Linked DNA regions of Homo sapiens: all the other regions are linked to region 1. Evidence: fine-mapped expression QTL. A gene starts in region 1. Each other region holds a variant in brackets. All regions are shown on one strand. Distances are from middle to middle.

Region 1 (2,500 bases):
AAAAAGTATATACTTTTCATTTTATATCCCATCTTAGATATAGTTTGCCATCTCTCATATCTGTGGCCAAATGTCATTTGAATCGGACTAAGTAATTGCAAAAAGTAAAATAATGACTTATTTTCTTAATTCATTAAAAATAAGTACATTTTTAATTCTCTAATTTAAAGTAAATATTTTAATAGAAGATTTAAAAGGAGCCACTGACCAGCCTGGGTGCTTACTACAAAAGAGTTGAAAGTAATTCACACAGTGTATCAACAGTAGCTGTCTCCCACACACACAGGCACACTCACTCTCTCCCCCATCTGAACTTTTCCTCCCTAAAACATGAGGTGGGAGAAGGGGAATGACCATGACACAGGCCTCACTACCCCCACCCCACGAGTAGACACACATCTCCCTCCTCATCCTGCTGAAAAGAAATGTGGAGGCTGTGGACCAAGAGACCCGATGCTTCTCAGTGTCACTTCCCCTGCATGTGGGATAAACAAACAAACCGGCACCATGAGAGTAACCATCAGAGTGATTTTGCTAACCTTTGACTAATGTCTTGGTTAAGTTTTGAGCTGAGTCAAAGCTCTAAGAAACAGGTAAATCCCTGTGTCCCCCCACCCAACCCCTTAAACACTCCAACGGGAAGTTTATCCCTGAGCTGAACGCTGGCCCCCGTCGCCTCCTCCCAGCCTATCCATGCCTCCTTCCTGCCTGAAGCCCCTACTCCAAAGGTAATTGTCTGGACACAGTCAAGGAGCACCGTGGGCGACACTCCCCACCTCCCAATCTCTCCTAAGGAAGCCCCCGCCGGCCCAGTTGGCCCACCTCCCTCGCCGCCCCAGTCGCGCCGCACCACTCCGGCAACTTTTGCACCCAGCCCGACCCGCCACCCGCGGCCCCCGCTGCCCCCTAGCCCTCCGCGCCCTCAGCCTCCGACCGCGGCCCCCTCCTGCCCACGCCTCCGGGCCACCCGCCATGGTCCTCGCCCACCCCTCCCCCGACACCCGCGCCTGCGGCGCCGCCCCCGCCGCACCCCACCCCACCCGCCCGGGACCCCAGCCCCACCCGGGAGGGAGGGCGCCGCGGCCGCGCCGAGGCAGCCGCCGGGCCGGGGCTGGCAGCGGAGCACCTACGCGCAGGGGGCTTTACCTCAAAGGCGCGGCCGCGAGCAGAGGGGTCGGTCCCGGGCGCGGGCGGCGCCCCCAGTCCGTCAGCGCCGGCGGGGGCAGCGGCGGCGGCACATCACACCCGCCGGCGGCCGGAGGAGGAAAGCGAGCCACGCAGGGAGCGAGCGAGCGAGCGAGCGAGGTAGGGGGGAAGGAGCGAGAGAGAGAGGTAACGCAGCGCTGCTCGGATTCGGTCCCTGCACTGCCGCTGGTGCCTCCTACCGCCGCCGCTGGCCGGAGAGTCGCCGCCCGAGCCTCTGCTGTCGCCACCGATGCAGCCCGGAATGAATGCACAGCAGCGCCTCGCTTATCCGGAGGTCAAACATCCTTCTGCCTCGGGCATCCGGATCGACGCCGGACCCGGAAGTGAACACATGGAAAAAAAATTAAAAAGGAAAGCGTCTGTTTAGCGGCGGCGGCCCCCAAGCTGCCCGCATCAGCGAAAACAGCCGAGTAGAGCCGAAGATTGCACCAACCTTCTTGGATTGGTCGGATCGCCGACCGGAAAGGAGACGGCGCGGTCATTGGCTGGCAAGGTGTATAAAGCCTAAGCCGCGCCCTATCCCCGTCTTTCTAGAGCCGTGCGTGAGGGAAAGTGGGGAGAGGCTGTGGATACGAGTGTTTCTCTGGATGAAGCAGTGGGCGGAGAAGCATAGCAAAGTCTACGCAGAGAACTGGAAGAGAACACCACCATGCTTTAGGAGAGCTACTAAGAACTGAGTGAGCAAAGAGCCTTAAGGGTACCATTGTGCCAAGTCAGGGTGCTGAGGCTTTCCCTGTTGTGCTCAGCCCGCCAGGTTCCAAAAAAATCTTAGGGCCCGGCCTAGGAGTATGACATCACTGGGTTGACATTTTTCCCCGCTTGTTTGTAACCCCAGTGCCATATCAGGGCTCCAACTGCTTAGAAATGTGAATTATGGCTCACATTTGCGTCTCATTTGCTGTTTGTAAGCTGAGGTAATCCTCTGAACTATATAGTGTGGCATTACCTGTTTTTCAAATTCACCTCCCAAAGTTCTGAGAAGCCAAACATCACCCAAGTTATCAAGTTGCAGCGCACAAACTGAAATCGGTGTTTCTGACTCACACTTAAGTCCACTCTGCCTACATAGAAAGACTGCATTCCTTTCATTTTCCCTCTTGCAGTTGCTTCCCTGGGATGGAGATAAGTCATTTTGGTAGACTTCTATGGAAATTGATCCACCATGAAGGCATGGAAACTATAATTTTTTAAAATTGTGATTCTTATGTCTCAAGTCCTTTCAAAAGTTAGGCATTAAGGTGTGCAGGAAGAAGAATCAGCCTGGTGCCATGTTTTTTAAATGTTCATTTTATCA
Region 2 (2,500 bases), 87 kb after region 1:
TCAGAATCAAGCCTTTCATCAATTCTGTCAGTTTCACCCAGGCGTGGTGGCTCACACCTGTAATCCCAACACTTTGGGAGACCAAAGCGGGTGAATCACCTGAGGTCAGGAGTTCGAAACCAGCCTGGACAACACGGTGAAACTTCATCTCTACTAAAAATATAAAAATGAGCTGGGTGTAGTGGTGTGCACCTGTAATCCCAGCTACTCAGGAGGTTGAGGCAGGAGAATCACTTGAACCTGGGAGGCGGAGGTTGCAGTGAGCTGTGAGCCAAGATCGTACCACTGCACTCCAGCGTGGGTGACAGAGCAAGACTCCATCTCAAAAAATAAATAAATAAAATAAAAAACCTGTCAGTTTAAATTTATAAGCTTATAGTGTAATGAATCTCATATTGTCTTATAGATAAAAATTACATGTTACTAGCATTTACTTACATATTTTGAAACAGTAATTGGTACTTTATTAACTTACAACAAGATTTTCCCTCATAAATTTAAGCTTAAATGTGATGATTTATACTAGAACTGAAGTTACTACTGTTTAATATCACATATGAAAGGAAATTAGATTATAGAAAAACAGATATAGATGATGATAGGATTATAATTCCATTTCTAGATGAGGAATTTCATATCATTGATTTTGTACATTCTGTTAGAGGAAGCACCAGGCCAACTAAATTGGTGACTTTTCAGTAGCTGTGCTGAAAGTGATTTTAGAAATGATGTTGTTCAGGAGGAAAATCCAAATAAAGGGAATCATGTGAAATTTACTACATGAAAAAGTTTCTTTGTTAATTTTAATAATCTGTCAGATTTTTTATGACCTAAAACTATTCTATGGCATACAGTAATGGTTTATAATCTAGGTGTGAAGCCCTGCTAGATATCCTAAAGCAAAACAACAAGGTATGCTGATGGACAGTTCCTGGCTCTTTTCACAGCTACTACTTAAAGTCTGAGATTGTTCATATAAAAAATAGTAACTAAGTGGCATTTACTACATTTAAGTCCTGCACTAAAGAACCATGCATACTATCGTTTTATAGCTGAAACTGAGGCTCAAAGAGGGAAAGTGATTTGCTTAAGGTCACCTGACATGCAAATAGCAAAGGTAGGTCCCAAACTCTGATCTTCTGGGGTACTCATTCCATCAGAGGTACTTGGGCCTCTCTTTGTCTATAATGCTAAGTACTGTCTTGCACCACTGATAACATTATACTTC[G/C]CTTGTGGTTAATTTGTTTCCTAATCTTTAAGTGTTGTTAATGTGTACATATTTATTAGACTTCTCAACAGAGGATATGTTAAACCACAACATTGGTATTATACCAACAAAATTCAGACTGTGGTAAACTCTGCAGACACGACCAGTTTCTTCAATAAAGAATTTCAAGAAAAAAAAAAGAAGGATTGGGTACCTCCATTAGTCCGTTTTCATACTACTATAAAGAACTGCCCAAGACTGGGTAATTTCAAAAGGAAAGAGGTTTAATTGACTCATAGTTCAGCATGGCTAGGGAGGCCTCAGGAAACTTATGGTCATGGCAGAAGGCAAAGGGGAAGCAAGGCACCTTCCTCACAAGGCAGCAAGAAGGAGAAGAGTGAGTGAGTAAAGGGGGAAGAGCGCTTAATAAAACCGTCAGATCTCCTGAGAACTCACTGACTATCAGGAGAATAGCATGGAGGAAACCACCCCCATGATTCAATTACCTCCATCTGGTCCCTTCCTTGACACTTGGGGGTTGTGGGGATTACAATTCAAAATGAGATTTTGGTGGGGGCACAAAGCCTAACCATATACATTAAAAAAGACAAGAGACATACCAACCATTGTATTTTGGAACTTGTTTGGATCCTGATTTGAAAAAACCGACTGCAAACAAATTATTAGACAATCAGAGAAATTTGAACAGTATATATTTAATGGGATTAAGAAATTTTTGTTAATTATTAAGTGTAATAATGGGATTGTGGTTAAATACTTAATATTTTAAGATTCTTTAAGAAGTCGTTATCTTTTTTTTTTTTTTTTTTTTTGAGACTGAGTCTTTCTCTGTGGCCCAGGCTGGAGCGCTGTGGCATGATACCGGCTCACTGCAACCTCTGCCTCATGATTTCAAGCGATTCTCGTGCCTCAGCCTTCTCGTGCTTCAGCCTCCCAAGTAGCTGGGATTTCTGGCTTGCGCTACCACGTCTGGCTAATTTTTGTATTTTTAGTAGAGACGGAGTTCTGCTATGTTGGCCAGGTTGGTCTCGAACTCCTGACTCAAGTGATCCGCCCACCTCAGCCTCCCAAAGTGCTGGGATTACAGATGTGAGCCACTACCACACCTGGCCAAAAAGTCTTCATCTTTTAGAAGTACGTATCCAAAAAGATGAATTGATGTGATGTTGGGGATTTCTTTAAAAATAACACAACAGATGAAGATGATTGGTCTTAAGTTGATAATCGTTGAAGCTGGGGTCTGGGTAACTGGGGGTTCATTATATCATTCTG
Region 3 (2,847 bases), 53 kb after region 1:
AAGGTCAAGGAAAGCTTCCTGCAGTGACGCATAATAGGAGACCTGAAGGGCTTGTAAGAAGTAAACAGGCAAAGATAGAAGAGGATTGGGGTGGAGAATATGATTCAAGCAGAGGGAGTGTCATGTGCAAACCCCAAAAGTAAGAAGGAGTATAGCAAGATGGAAAATGGAAAAGAATTTAATCTAAAGTGATAGATTTTGAGGTATGAGTGGTGATAGATAAATCTAGAGAGGTAAATTGAGACCTAATTAATCACAGAGTTTTGAGGCCAGTGACAAGGCAGTACAGAGTTTAAGCAGGGAAATGGCATGATCAGGTCTGGAGCAATTACAGTGATCCAGATAGGCTATGATAAAGATTTTTTTTTTTTTTTTTGAGATGGAGTCTTGCTCTGTTGCCAGGCTGGAGTGCAGTGGCACGGTCTCGGCTCACTGCAACCTCCGCCTCCTGGGTTCAAGCGATTCTCCTGCCTCAGCCTCCCAAGTAGCTGGGATTACAGGCAGGTGCCACCACACCCGGCTAATTTTTGTATTTTTAGTAGAGATGGGGTTTCACCATGTTAGCCAGGCTGGTCTTGAACTCCTGACCTCGTGATCTGCCCACCTCGGCCTCCCAAAGTGATGGGATTACAGGCGTGAGCCACCGCGCCCGGCCAAGCTATGATAAAGATTTTAAGCACTAGTTGTAGTGGCCTTAGATGATGGTTACATAGAGTTATTGAAGGGTATAGAAAGAGGTTGGAGGCAGAATTCACAATAATTACTATTCATTATTGAATTACAAATTCTTAGAGGAATTTCAGATTATTATTTTACCCCCATGTATGTAGCACAGAATAAATATTCAACAAATACGTGTCAAATTAATTAAGAAATAAAACAAATTCAACCAAATTTATTTTTCTTCTTTTATTTTATTTTATTTTATTATTATTATACTTTAAGTTTTAGGGTACATGTGCACAATGTGCAGGTTAGTTACATATGTATACATGTGCCATGCTGGTGTGCTGCACCCATTAACTCGTCATTTAGCATTAGGTATATCTCCTAATGCTATCCCTCCCCCCT[C/A]CCCCCACCCCACAACAGTCCCCAGAGTGTGATGTTCCCCTTCCTGTGTCCATGTGTTCTCATTGTTCAATTTCCACCTATGAGTGAGAACATGCGGTGTTTGGTTTTTTGTCCTTGCGACAGTTTACTGAGAGTGATGATTTCCAATTTCATCCATGTCCCTACAAAGGACATGAACTCATCCTTTTTTATGGCTGCATAGTATTCCATGGTGTATATGTGCCACATTTTCTTAATCCAGTGTATCATTGTTGGACATTTGGGTTGGTTCCAAGTCTTTGCTATTGTGAATAGTGCCGCAGTATACATACGTGTGCATGTGTCTTTATAGCAGCATGATTTATAATCCTTTGGGTATATACCCAGTAATGGGATGGCTGGGTCAAATGGTATTTCTAGTTCTAGATCCCTGAGGAATCACCACACTGACTTCCACAATGGTTGAACTAGTTTACAGTCCCACCAACAGTGTAAAAGTGTCCCTATTTCTCCACATCCTCTCCAGCACCTGTTGTTTCCTGACTTTTTAATGATTGCCATTCTAACTGGTATGAGATGGTATCTCATTGTGGTTTTGATTTGCATTTCTCTGATGGCCAGTGATGGTGAGCATTTTTTTATGTGTTTTTTGACTGCATAAATGTCTTCTTTTGAGAAGTATCTGTTCGTGTCCTTCTCCCACTTGTTGATGGGGTTGTTTGTTTTTTTCTTGTAAATTTGTTTGAGTTCATTGTAGATTCTGGATATTAGCCCTTTGTCAGATGAGTAGGTTGCAAAAATTTTCTCCCATTCTGTAGGTTGCCTGTTCACTCTGATGGTAGTTTCTTTTGCTGTGCAGAAGCTCTTTAATTTAATTAGATCCCATTTGTCAATTTTGGCTTTTGTTGCCATTGCTTTTGGTGTTTTAGACATGAAGTCCTTGCCCATGCCTGTGTCCTGAATGGTAATGCCTAGGTTTTCTTCTAGGGTTTTTATGGTTTTAGGTCTAACATTTAAGTCTTTAATCCATCTTGAATTAATTTTTGTATAAAGTGTAAGGAAGGGATCATTTCAGCTTTCTACATAAGGCTAGCCAGTTTTCTCAGCACCATTTATTAAATAGGGAATGCTTTCCCCATTGCTTCTTTTTCTCAGGTTTGTCAAAGATCAGATAGCTGTAGATACGTGGTGTTATTTCTGAGGGCTCTGTTCTGTTCCATTGATCTATATTTCTGTTTTGGTACCAGTACCATGCTGTTTTGGTTACTGTAGCCTTGTAGTATAGTTTGAAGTCAGGTAATGTGATGCCTCCAGCTTTGTTCTTTTGGCTTAGGATTGACTTGGTGATGCGGGCTCTTTTTTGGTTCCATATGAACTTTAAAGTAGTTTTTTCCAATTCTGTGAAGAAAGTCATTGGTAGCTTGATGGGGATGGCATTGAATCTATAAATTACCTTGGACAGTATGGCCATTTTTATGATATTGATTCTTCCTACCCATGAGCATGGAATGTTCTTCCATTTGTTTGTATCCTCTTTTATTTCATTGAGCAGTGGTTTGTAGTTCTCCTTGAAGAGGTCCTTCATGTCCCTTGTAAGTTGGATTCCTAGGTATTTTATTCTCTTTGAAGCAATTGTGAATGGGACTTCACTCATGATTTGGCTCTCTGTTTATCTGTTATTGGTGTATAAGAATGCTTGTGATTTTTGCACATTGATTGTGTATCCTGAGACTTTGCTGAAGTTGCTTATCAGCTTAAGGAGATTTTGGGCTGAGACGATGAGGTTTTCTAGATATA

Evidence for each region. PIP is the estimated chance that this variant, and not a neighbour inherited with it, causes the effect.
Region 2: its variant is fine-mapped to the expression of CSNK1G3 in whole blood (INTERVAL, PIP 0.99).
Region 3: its variant is fine-mapped to the expression of CSNK1G3 in whole blood (INTERVAL, PIP 0.95).

What each region holds. Positions count from the first base shown.
Region 1 is chr5:123,511,217-123,513,716 of GRCh38, reverse strand. CSNK1G3 (casein kinase 1 gamma 3) reads right to left here and starts at 1,540. Exons shown (of 14, transcript NM_001364140.2): 1 at 1,147-1,540. RefSeq lists enhancers at 219-368, 1,399-1,608, 1,769-1,828 and silencers at 889-958, 1,129-1,218.
Region 2 is chr5:123,424,697-123,427,196 of GRCh38, reverse strand. No RefSeq gene overlaps it. Among named protein-coding and RNA genes, the nearest start is that of CEP120, 2.5 kb to the right of the region's middle. The variant G/C (reference allele first, on the strand shown) is at 1,229.
Region 3 is chr5:123,457,594-123,460,440 of GRCh38, reverse strand. No RefSeq gene overlaps it. Among named protein-coding and RNA genes, the nearest start is that of CEP120, 36 kb to the right of the region's middle. The variant C/A (reference allele first, on the strand shown) is at 1,072.